3 separate regions of the Homo sapiens genome follow, and regions 2 and 3 are each linked to region 1. The links come from fine-mapping of genetic effects on plasma protein levels. Region 1 holds a variant in brackets. A gene starts in each other region. All regions are shown on their forward strands.

Region 1 (4,352 bases):
GGGAGTGTTTCCAGACCGTGTCCAGAGATGCCCCAGTAGAGGTGACAGGTGACTTCACTCTTGGTTCTGGGACCTTCTGTGTCTGGAAGCGACTAACAGCTTGGGACCCAGAATTGCCTTCCCCACCCCCAGCCACGCAATTGTGGGCAAGGGGCTTGCTCTCCCAGCCCCAGACTCCACACTTAGGAAAATTTTAAATGGGAGTGAGATGAGCCTGTTGCCCAGGTGAGGCTAAAATAAGGGAGCAAGTAAGCACACCCTCCGCCAGAGCTGGACGCAGGCAATAACTGTCCTTAGGACCCTGATAACTGTGATACTTGGGGAGCTCAGGGAGGCCCCATGGGTCTGATTGGCTGCTGTGGTCACTTCTCCCCAAACCAGGCCAGCCTCGATGGTCAAATGTGTCTTACCCAAACAAGACCAAGACAAGCATTATTAGGAAAAGGATCATAGGTCGAAGTGCGTGGCATTTTGGTTTTCCTGGAAAACAGGAGTAGAAAAATCACATCACTCACCCTCCTTCTCTCACCTGCCCCACTTTACCTGTCCCGCCTTGTAATTCAGGCATCACACCCTGCGACGGGCCTTCATCTGCCAAGATGGTCCCTCTGCCCCACAGGTGATGCTCTGAGCCCCACCTGAGCATCTCCAAACCCAGTCCAGATCTGGCCCTCCTCCCACTCAGAGAAGAGGGAGGCGGTCTGCTCCTCCCAGCTCATCAGCCCGACTGCTCCTGCAGACTCTGAGAGCCACCCCGGCTTCCCATTGACCTCCTTCCACTCAGCACCCCCTTCCCCTGGGAGACCGGAATGAACCACACTGAAATGAGCACGTCGAGGTCACTGTCGAACCCACCGAGGGAGGCCAGGACAGCCTCATGGCCAGGCTGAGCCAGGAGCCCAGACCAGTTCCTGCCAGGGAGAGGAGCCACCAACTTCCCCTAGTATCTCCCTGCTGTCTCAGAGGCTCATGTTCTGGAAACAATCATTGTCTTTAAGGTGATTTTATGTATATTAAAGTCACGTACAGTAGTTCCCTTATCCACACCTTCGCTTGCTGGAGTTTCAGTTACCCATGGTCAACCAAAGGCCAATAATAGGTGAGTACAGTACAGTAAAATATTTTGAGGACAGGCATCGTGGCTCGTGCCTATAATCCCAGGACTTTGGGAGGCTGAGCCAGCAGAATTGCTGGAAGCCAGGAGTTCTAGACCAGCCTGGGCAACATAGTGAGAACTCATTTCTATCAAGAAAAAAAAAAAAAAAACAATTAGCTGGGCATAGTGGTGCATGCCTCTGGTCCCAGGAGGCTGAGGTGGAAGGATCACTTGAGCCTAGGAGGTGAAGGCTGCAGTAAGCCATGATCACACCACTGCACTCCAGCCTGGGTAACAGAGCAAGACCCTGTCTCTTAATAATAAACAAAACTACAACAACAAAAAACCCACAAACTAAGATATATACACATTTTTTTTTAGAGAGACCACATTCACGTAACCTTTATTACAGTATATTGTTTTTGTTGTTGTTGTTGTTTTGTTGTTGTTTTTGAGATGGAGTTTTGCTCGTTGCCCAGGCTGGAGTGCAAAGGGGCACCTTCGGCTCACTACAGCCTCCGCCTCCCGGGTTCAAGCAATTCTCCTGCCTCAGCCTCCCGAGTAGCTGGGTTTACAG[GCGCCCACCACTA/G]CGCCTGGCTAATTTTTTGTATTTTTAGTAGAGACAGGTTTCACCATGTTGGCCAGGCTGGTCTCGATCTCCTGACTTCAAGTGATCCACCCGCCTCGGACAGTATATTGTTATAATTGTTCTATTTTACTATTAATTATGGTTGTTAATCCCACCCGGTGCCTAATTTATAAATTAAACCCTATCATAGGTATGTGTGTACAGGAGAAAACATACTCTCTGTAGGGTTTGGTACTATCTGTGGTTTCAGACATCCACTGGGGATCTCGGAACCTATCCCCCGCAGGTAAGAGGGGACTATCGTTTTCACAAGGGCAAGCCTGAAAGGCGTCTATCTCCTGGCCCAGTTCCTATTCCTTCCCCCGAAATCAGTCCCTTTCAACTAATTCATCTGTTACTTCTTATCTTATAATGCTTGTGTGTGTTTACCTCCACCTTTCTAAGTCCTGTGACCACGGAGCGATTTATCTCGAATAGCTTCTTGAAACAGAAACGTGGGAGGCAAAACATTTGAACTTTACATGTCCTAAATTATTTTTTCCATTTTTGTAGTTGGTAGATCGTTTGGCTGTAGGGAAATCTTGGTGGAAATAATTTTCCTTCAATGTGGCAAAAATGGTTCCATTTTTTAAAACTTTGAAAATTAATTTAATTTGAGGGATAACTTACATCCAATAAAATGTGCCCACTTTAGGTATACGGTTTTGATGAGTTTCACACAATGTATGTACACATGTAATCACCCCAGTAAGGTCCCTCCTGACCCTGACAACCATGGATCTGATTCCCTGGCGTTTCCCATACACGGAATCCTCTGATACATGCTCTTTTATGTCTGGCCGCATCACACCGCATGCTGTTTTGAAGATTCACCTATATTGTCACGTGTATCAATCGTTCGTTCTTTTTCATTTCTGAGAAGCACGCCATTGTTAATCCGCCACAATTCATTTATTCTGTCTCCTATTGACAGACACTGTGGTTTTTTCACTGTTCGGGGCCACTAGCAACAAAGCTTCTGTAAACACTCATGTGCAGGTATTTGTGGACCTGTGTTTTCATTTCCCTTGAGTAAATACCAAGGAATGGAAAAGATGGGTCATATGGTAAGTGTATGTTTAACTTTGTAAGAAACTGTGTTCCAAAGTGGTGACTGAATTTTCCATTCCCGCCAGGAATGTACGAGAACCACAGTCCTTGCCAACACTTGATGGTCACTCTTTTATCCTTTAGCCATGCTAGTGGATGAGGAGTGGTATCTAAGTGTGTCCAATGACTAAGGAGGTAAATCATCTTTTCATGTATTTATTGGCCATTTGCTTGCTTCTTATGAAGCCTGTCCAGATCTTTAGCTCATTTTATTATTTATTTATTTATTTATTTACTTATATATATTTTTGGGGGGCACAGTCCCACTCCAGTTGCCCAGGCTGGAGTGTGGTGGCATGATCATGGCTCACTACAGCCTCGACTTCCTGGGCTCAGGTGATCCTCCCACCTCAGCCTTTTGAGTAGCTGAGACTATAGGCATGCACCACATCTAGCTGATTTTTTGTGGTTTTGGTAGAGATGGGGTTTCACCATGTTGCCCAGGCTGGTCTTGAACTCCTGGGCTTAAGCAATCCACCTGCCTCAGCCTCCCAATGTGCTGGGATTACAGGCATAAGCCACCTCACCTGGCCCTCTATTTTTATTTTTTTTAGACAGGATCTTACTCTGTCACCCAGGCTGGAGTGCAGTGGCACGATCACAGCTCGCTGCAACCTCGAACTCCTGAGCTTAAGTGATCTTTCCCCCTCAGCCTCCTGATTAGGTGGGACTACAGACATGCACCAACATGCCCGGCTAATTATTCTACTTTTTGTAGACACTGGGTCTCATTAAGTTGTTTCTCTTTTTATTATTGAGCAGAATTTATTTCTATATTTTGGATACAAGTCCTTTGCCAAATACAAATATTACAAATATTTTCTCGCCAGGCACAGAGAGACAGACACTGCATGTTCTCACTTATCTGTAGTATCAAAACATCGAAACAATTAAACTCATGGAGATAGAGAATAGAAGGATGGTTCGCAGAGACTTGGAAGGGTAGTGGCAGGGGTGAGAGGGTATGTAGGGATGGTTAATGTGTACAAATAAATAGAAAGAATGAATAAGACCCAGTATTTGATAGCATAACAGGGAGACTATAGTCAATAATAATTTAATTGCACATTTAAAAATAACTAAAAGAGAGGTCGGGCACAGTGGCTCATGCCTGTAATCTCAGCACTTTGGGAGGCCGAGGCAGGTGGATCACCTGAGATCAGGAGTTCAAGACCAGCCTGGCCAACATGGTGAAACCTCATCTCTACTAAAAATACAAAAACTAAGGCCAGGCGTGGTGGCTCACGCCCGTAACCCCAGCACTTTGGGAGGCCGAGGTGGGTGGATCACGAGGTCAGGCATTCGAGTCTAGCCTGACCAACACGGTGAAATCCTGCCTCTACTAAAAATACAAAAAATTAGCTGGGTGTGGTGGCGCATGCCTGTAATCCCAGCTACTTGGGAGGCTGAGGCAGGAGAATCTCCTGAACCTGGGAGACGGAGGTTGCAGTGAGCCGAGATTGCACCACTGCACTCCAGCCCGGGCGACAGAGCGAGACTCCATCTCAAAAAAAAAAA
Region 2 (4,352 bases), not on the chromosome of region 1:
GGCGCACCCTTCCACATGACCATTTCCCTGACCCTTAACATGCCCCAGACGGAATTCATCCATCTCCTCACCTAGACAAATGACACACCATCGACTTCCCGGACGAATGCTGAGAACTTGCCACGCTCTCTCCCCAGGGCCCCATCCCTATCCCTGCCGCCATCCCATGTGTCAGTTCATCTTGCGAGGCCTCCCCCTGTGATCTCTCGGTCCTCTCCGCATTCCTGGGTTGCCTCACACCTGGGTTATTGCAAGTGTCTTCTAGCCTCTCTCCTGCTCCCATCCGTCCTACACACTTTTTAAATCTTCATTCAGGCTTTAACTTGCACGCACAAGTGTGTGAACCTTCCTCTCCATCTCCAGGGCCTGGCTCCAAACAGCATTTCCATGGTCATGGAAATGATCTGAAGACTTCCACAGATGCCTCACTACTTTTTTTTTTTTTTTTTTGAAACAGGGTCTCACTCTGTCACCCAGGGTGAAGTGCAGTGGCACAATCATAGCTCACTGCAACCTTCACCACCAGGACGGAATGTAGTGGTGTGGTCAGGGCTCACTACAACCTCCACCTCCTGGGCCCAAGCCGTCCTCCCGAGCTCAGTCTCCCGAATAGCTGGGATGACAAGCACGCCCCACCATGCCCCGCTAATCTTTGTATTTTTTGTAGAGACAGGGTTTTGCTGTGTTGCCCAGGCTGGTCTCGAACTCCTGGACTCAAGCAATCCACACACCTCGGCCTCCTGAAGTGCTGGAATTACAGGCATGAACCACAGCACCCATCTGAGATGCCTCACCTCACTTCTAATCACAGTCTGGGCACAGAATGTGCCCTAGGAGAACAGCTTCTGAATAAACGAATGAATGAATTCCTCCACCTGGAACCATATTCAACACTCTTCCTCCATCCTCTCCCCCACTCCCTCTAATTCTCCCATTCACATTTCTTAGTGTTTCTCAACATGGTTTTTCCACTCCCGAACCAAGGTGTCTGGCTTCCTGCCACCCTGCCCATCAACACAAAATCCCATCTCTCCATTCCTCTCCTCTTCCTCACATCAGTATCCAACTCTGCTTCCCTCCTTTATAGCTACCCTGACAGGCAGTGACTTCAGATGTCAGCTCCACATCCACTTTTCTATGAGGCTTTCCCTCCGCCATCCCATCTGACACATCTCTTGTTCCTTAATTCCTTCAGCAAATAGTTAAGGGGCACAGTTAATGTGACAGGTCCCGTATGGGTGCTAGGGATGCTGAGGTGGATAATACACAGCTCGTGCTCTCAAGAGCTCTCACTTGAGTCAAAGACAGTCAGTTGTAGGCACTGAGATCTATACAGGGAGTGCTGCAGTTGCACAGTGAAGGACACTGAAGCAGCGTGGGGAAGCTCCTGAATTTTCTGGAGCTGAGCGCAGGAGCTGAGACCTGCTAAGCAAGGAAAGGCAGTGGACTAAGGCTCACCTCCTTCCCCAGTTCCTCCTCCTCCCAACTGGTGCTCCAGGACACCACATCACAATGCATTTGTGGATATTTTCCTCGGGATTGCTCTGAAATCATTTTTCACTGTAAGCCATCTTGGTTACTAGGCTGTAAGCTCTTTGAGAGCAGCAAAATCCTGTTTGCTTTGCCACAGTCTCTCCTGTATCATTCTTCCCTACTCCCCTACCCCACTTCTCTCTCTCTCTCTCTCTCTCTCTCACACACACACACACACACACACACACACACACACTGTGAGCTCTGCATTGCCCACTGAATGGTGAGAAATTCAGAAGGATGTTGCATTCCCTTTGTTTTCCCTTTCCTCCAGCTCCAGGCCAGGCTTCTGTCCCTTAGGAGACATAATCCCACCTGGGCTGAAGCACCCCAGGACGCAGGCACTTCCCTTTACCTGTTCAGGCTACCTTTACCCTCTGTTTTCCCAACACAGGTAGCCACCCAGTAATTACTACTAGTCACAGCAATATAAAAACTTTATTGAGTGCTTTCTATTTGCTACAACCTATTCCCCTGATGGACTGTCAAAGCTGTGGGCAGGGATTTTGTTCTCTGCTGTAATCCCAGCACCTATCACAGTGTCTAGCCCAGAGCGCACACTTAATAAATCAAATGAACACTTAACATGTATCAGTCTATTCAATCTTCAAAACAACAGTATGAGGTCAAGACTGTGACACCCATTTTGGAGATAAAGAAACGAAGGCATGGAAGGTTAGGTTATATAAGCTGCTCTTGTTCATGCAGGAGGTATGTGAGGGAGCCAGGGGCCGCCCCCAAACAGAAAACAGAAGCAGGATGTCAGGGCAGCTGGCTGGTGGGGAGACCGTGGGGGAAGGACAGTGGGAAGAAGGGAAGAGCGGGTGGGACTAAGGAGGCAGGAGGAGGCAGAAGAAGAAGAGTGAGACCCTGACCAGAGACGTGCTGCCTGGGGACCTGGGGCCGGGACCAGAGCGGAGCAGAGAGGAGGGGAAGGAGGATTAGCGAGAAAAGATTTCAAAAAAAGAGGCTCTGAGAAGTCTGAGGAGAGTCTGGGGAGATTGCTGGAAGAAAGGAATGGTAGGAGAGGAAGAGTATAAGGCACTAAAGAGAGGGGAGGTAGGCGCAGCCTTCAGAGGCCGGGCAGGGCAGGGAAAATCTGCCTGACTAGATGGGCCCAGGACATCTGAACAGGATGATTCCCGGACCAAGACGTGGAGGACGATCAAGGATACATTGAAACAAGGCTGAGGCCAGAGAAAGGGACATTTTCCAGTGACGAAAACAACTTTCTACCAACTTCCCCAAACTGAACTGTAGAATAAGAAACCAAGGGATTGTTGTTTAGGTCTGTGAGAAGCAGCGGGGAGGGGAAGCTGGAGGACAGGCCCAGGGACACTGACCAGGTGGGGGTAGGACTAGCTCCCTGGGAAGGCTCAGTCCCACAGCGGCTACCTGCCTAGCAGCAGGCAAAAGGGTAAAGAATGTCCCCAGGTGAGAGGCCGGGGCTTGGCCAGGGCACTGGGGACACTGTCCACTGGGTTGCCCTGCCCCATCCAGTGTCCCAGCCCATTCTCAAATACCTCCCACCATGAGCATCCCAAACCCACCACACCAGCCCATCCCCACTCCTCAACTCACTCCCCCACTTCACCAGCCGCCAAAATCCTGCCCTACAGGGTGTGCTCCACCAAGTTCCACAGGCAGCCTCGCCTCCCCACGGCCCAACACCCTCCAGGCCAGCCAGCTGACCGGAGGGACAGAATTCAGAACCGTCTGGACTCCCCGAGCACTAATCTTCCTACTCCCACTCCCTTCTTTTCCCCGCCAAATCTGCCCCACCCTGGGCCTATCTCCTGCCCACATTCCCTTGGCCGCCCACAAACTTCCACCGCTGTCAGGGGCCAGGGCTTCCTTTTACTCTCTCCCTTTCAAACTTCTCCCATTCCCCTGCCTCAGCGCAGCCCCTACTCCAAAAGGCGGATGAATGGGGAACCCCACACTGGCAGTGGCTGAGGTTAGGACCTGCAGGCCTGAGGCTGGCGCCAGGACCAGGCCCGGGCAGGAGAGGCTCGGCCCCCTCCCGGAGAGGGCCCACGCCAGCCGGAAGGTGCCTCGCCCACCAGCCCACTCTTCCCTTTGTCCCTGGTCTCACCAGTGGCAGCAGCAGGTCAGGCACGGTGGAGAGGCCCATGCCAGACAGCTATGGCCTCTCACTCCCCCATTTGGGCTCAGGGCAGTGTGGCAGCGGCAGTGCTGGGGCTTCCCGGGACTCGGTCTGTCCAGGACGTCCCAAGTGCCTTGGGGTGACAGTTGAGGGTTGAGACTCGGGCATAGAGATCACGGCCTGGTCCCAGTGATCTTGAACCCCAAAGGCCAGAACTGGAGCCTCAGTCCAGAGAATTCTGAGAAAATTAAAGCAGAGAGGAGGGGAGAGAAGGTGGGAGGGGAAGAGTGAGGCAGTGTTGCAACAGCGGGACAGGAAGAGCTGGAGGAGGAGGCCACAGGAGGCGGGAGGAGGAGGCCCAACGTTCTTTAACTCTTTGTAGTCCAGTCACAAGCACAGGAGTCCCAGATCTGGCTGCCTTGTGCCCCCAACCCACCAATCCGACCACTCCCAACCAAACACCAAGGGGCAATAAGCCCCTTGCCCACATCACTAGCCTTTCCCAGATGGATCACAGCAGTGAAAAGATCCAGAGTCTGGGAGTCAAATTCTCTGGGTTCCAATTCAGAATGCTTAGCTTTTTAGCTAAGAATGTGTCTTGGACACATAAATGAACTTCTCAGACACATAACTGAAACTGTCTGGATCTGTTTTCCAATTTGCAGAGTGGAGATAACCTGTCTCCTGGGGTTCCTGTAAGGATTTGTTCAGA
Region 3 (4,000 bases), not on the chromosome of region 1:
GTGAGCCTGAAGGATATTATGTTAAATGAAATGAGGTAGGCACAGGATGACAAGTACTGCATTATCTCACTCATGTGGAATCTGAAAACGTTGATCTCATAGAAGGACGGTGCAGAATCATGGTTACAAGAAGCTTGGGTAATAGTGGGGAAGGAGGAATGAGGGAAATGTTGCTCAAGGGATATATAATTACAGTTAGATATGGGGTGTGTGTCCAGAATAGACAAATATAGAGAGACAGAAAGTAGATAATGATTGCATGTGGCCAGAAAATAGAGGGGTGAGGATAGGTGAGGCGTTGGAAAAAAAATTGGGGATGCCTGCTAGTGGGTATGGCGTTCTTTCTTGGGTGATGAAAACATTCTGAAATTGATTGTGGTGATAGTTGCACCACTCAGTGATTGTCATAAAAAACCATTGGATTGCATAACTTAAATGGTGAATTGTATTATATGTGAATAATATTTCAATAAAGCTGTTTTTAATAAAAGATACTGTAGCATGTTTGTATACTTATGGGAATAATTTAGAATGAAGAAACATATTGATGATGGAGCAAACTTTTTGAGAAAGTAAGAGGGTCATGGGCCTAATGCACAAGTGGAGAGTCTTGTCATCAACAAGATGAGGGGCAATATATTCGTGGTAGGGGAAGAGAAGGCAGTGTATGTGAATGCAGAGGTGAGTAGGTCAACAGCAACAGAAAGATGAGAGAGTTTTCTTCTGACTGCTTTTATTTTCTCAATGAAATATGAAGCAAGATTACACAATGAGAGTGAACAGAGAAGTATGAGGTGACAGGATAAGGTATGCAATAGTGATAATGGAGCAACATGGACTGTGAACATGTAGGATAATTGCCTGGCATTGCTGTTGGCTACCTGAGATTTGGGGGTCCTACACTTAAAAGGGGATAAGTCATCAGGGTTGTGCATTTAAAAAAAAATCCCATTCAGCTGTTTATGTCCAGGAGTGAAGCATGCAGAAGGGCGTGTAAACCAGGAGAGTGCTATGGGGGAAGAGAGATGAAGGTGTGCTCGAGGGAGTGTTGTGGTGGTGAGCTGCAGAATCTGAGCTGAGCACCATGAGAAGTGAGCACATGAAGTGTAGTTACTGATAATGGAAAAGTAGCCCTGGGGTAATTGAAGTCATGTTGGAAATAGAGTGCAGGAGAAAGTGAGCTAGAAACACAACTTAGTGGGGGTGGGGGATGTATGCTGAAAACAAAGGAGTGATGATAAGTTCTAAGGTTTGACTGTGGGAATGGGGAGTCAGAGAGGGATAAAAGGAAATAACGTTGGTAGTAAGAAGGGCAAGGAATTCAGAGGCCTATTTATTATACAGATTTTTCTTTTGGCAGCTGTTGAAAACACTGAGAACAAAGACAATTATTGATGGAAAGGAAGACAGACAGTGAACACTTCCTATGAGATAAAAACTGAAATGATAGTTTTCTTGAAAACTCTGGCTTTTTGAAATATCTACAACTTTTTGCCTGACTCTGAGCCCTCCGTGGAAGTGGAGATCTGAGCACCCCTGAGCATTACCTGACAGAACCTTAGTCCTAAGAAGTCCTTACAGCCCTTCAGGAAGCAGAGCCCAAGCATGATTGCATCCCATGCCCTGCTCTGAGTTGCCCAACTCACCACAGATCAACAGCAACAGCCTCGGCAGCATGAGGACCAGGTCAGGGATGGTACCTAGAGATGCCTCTCATCAAAAAAAGAATGCACCTCAGAGTCGAGCAGCAGCAGCTCATCAGAGGTTTGAGGAAGTTGATATCGGAAGTTACCCTTCAGCAGAAGTAGAAGGAAGAAGAACCCTCTAGTGACCAGTCTCCATTTCCTTTTCTATGAAGTCTGAGAAAATTAAAGATGCTCCTTTTTAAATATAGTTTGATTCAGTTCCACAAGCTGCAGATAGTACACATCAATATTTGAGGGACTTTTTCAAGAATTCAGGTATTTCAAAGGAAGTTTTCTAAAGGCAGTTTCCTACTTTGATGAGTCTCATCAGGTTATGGTCCTGCTGAAATTCATCTTTGATACATCTACAATACTTTTCACCTTTGATAGGGATGTCTCCTGGATTGTTTCTAATTGGCACATTCTTCTTGCTCAGCAATATAGTCCCACTATGCAAACTTTCTCTAGTATAGTCATATTATGCAAACATGTCATTAAATCAGGGACTGATGGGGCTGTCACCCCGGTTATGTGTAGTGTCTGACCCTTGCTGCATATGATGACTTATGTACAGGGTCAACCTATTCATACAGATATACGCTTTGATATTCAAACTTTCAGTGTACCAGTAAATGAGCATGAAATCACTGAAAAATAAAATCACGGCAAATTACAATCTGGGGGATATTTGAAAATGAAATACAGAAAAGAAGTATATGCAAATTAGCTTCAGGGCACTTGAGAAGGGTTCACCATTAGTACTAACTCTGGCATTTGTAAAATTGCCCCTCTTTTCCCTCAAAATCAGGGCACCTATAATCTCTCCCATTGCTACCTTTAGCACATTAGGGATACCAGTTCTAGGCAAGTGAAGCCTAGATTAGGGATTGGAGGAGAATAAGCTATCTTAATTTTCAACATTTCTTAAATCCGTGAGTGTCTAGGATTAAGAATAACTAGAATGTGTGGAAAGTAACCTATTAGGGGAAAGATGCTGTCAGGCAATGATGTCTAAGTCCAGGTATCCAGCTCAATGAGTATGACTGAGAAAAGAAACTATTCAGTGATACGCAAAACCAGAGGGAAAAGGGAGCAATGTTGGTAACCAGGCTAACAGCGAAAGTGCTGAAAACGAATAGGTATTCCATAGCTTTATTTATTGGCTTAGGAAAGCCTGTGTGGGGATAAGCTTGTTTAGTGTAAAGTTTCAGGACCAATGCAAAAAAATCTCCTGAATGAGAATGTAGAGCCCTTTAAATCCAGGGTGTAAAGCTGTTTTTGCATACACTCTGCTGTTTCATCTCTCTCTTTTTCTTTTAATCTGTTGGTTTTTTTAATGTTTTAATTGACACATTGTAATTGTACATATTTATGGGGCACAGTTTGACATTGCAATATAATACATATATATGTTGTACAGTGATGATCAAATCAGGGTGGTTGGCATATCCATTGTCTCGTGCAGTTTTCATTTCTATGTGGTGAGAACATTCAAAAGCCTCTTTCCTAGCTATTTTGTAATATATAATACCTTACTAGTAACCATAGTTACCCTACTGTGCAATAAAACACCAAACCTTATTCCTCCTATCGAATTGGCACCTTGTACCTGTTGACCAATCTTTCCCTCTCTTCCCTCCTCATTCCCTCCTCAGTCTCTGATAGATGCTATTCTATGCTATACTTCCATAATATCAACTTCTTATTTTTTTCAGATTCCACATATAAGTAAGTTCATGTGGTATTTGTCTTTCTGTGTCTGGCTTGGTTCACTTAACATGATGTCCTCCAGCTTCATCATGTTGTCACAAATGACAGGATTTCATTTTGTATGGCTGAATGGTATTCCGTTGTATATATACACCACATTTTCTTTATGGATTCATCTGTTGTTGGGGTCTTAGGTTGATTCTCATCACATCTCTTCCTGTGTGTCCTGCTCCAGTGCCTTCACAAGATGTTCAGATTAAAATGTGTTTCCTCCTCCACAGATATAAAGGCTATAACATTTTATTTGTTAAGCTCTCTCACACTTTTATTTTTATAATGTGATAGTTCATGCATGCATACAAAAAAGTAACATGAATATAAATTATGAAATACTACGATGAAATGAAAAGCCATGAGCCTATCCCCAGACTGTTTTAAGAACTTGAACATAAGGCGGGCGGATCACGAGGTCAGGAGATCGAGACCATCCTGGCTAACACAGTGAAACCCCGTCTCTACTAAAAAACACAAAAAATTAGCCGGGCGTGGTGGCGGGCGCCTGTAGTCCCAGCTGCGCGGGAGGCTGAGGCAGGAGAATGGCGTGA

Direction of the effects. Positions count from the first base shown, and alleles are read on the strand shown. Strength reflects both the effect of a copy and how common the allele is.
With allele GCGCCCACCACTA in place of G in region 1, the plasma level of the protein whose gene starts at base 3,929 in region 2 is higher (strong association).
In carriers of allele G in region 1, the plasma level of the protein whose gene starts at base 1,760 in region 3 tends to be higher than with GCGCCCACCACTA alone (strong association).

Evidence for each region. PIP is the chance, under the fine-mapping model, that this variant and not a neighbour inherited with it causes the effect. Protein levels are from antibody-based Olink assays in UK Biobank. Linkage for the fine-mapping came from a reference panel and not from the study's own genotypes, which makes the PIPs less certain.
Region 2: TNFRSF1A starts here. The variant in region 1 is fine-mapped to the plasma level of the TNFRSF1A protein (UK Biobank, PIP above 0.99).
Region 3: FCRL1 starts here. The variant in region 1 is fine-mapped to the plasma level of the FCRL1 protein (UK Biobank, PIP above 0.99).

What each region holds. Positions count from the first base shown.
Region 1 is chr9:133,261,689-133,266,040 of GRCh38, forward strand. It overlaps the pseudogene ABO. Among named protein-coding and RNA genes, the nearest start is that of OBP2B, 55 kb to the left of the region's middle. The variant GCGCCCACCACTA/G (reference allele first, on the strand shown) is at 1,674.
Region 2 is chr12:6,338,148-6,342,499 of GRCh38, forward strand. It overlaps TNFRSF1A (TNF receptor superfamily member 1A), which reads right to left and starts at 3,929. Exons shown (of 10, transcript NM_001065.4): 1 at 3,629-3,929. The coding sequence starts at 3,667. RefSeq lists an enhancer at 3,732-3,831.
Region 3 is chr1:157,818,361-157,822,360 of GRCh38, forward strand. It overlaps FCRL1 (Fc receptor like 1), which reads right to left and starts at 1,760. Exons shown (of 11, transcript NM_052938.5): 1 at 1,647-1,760. The coding sequence starts at 1,677.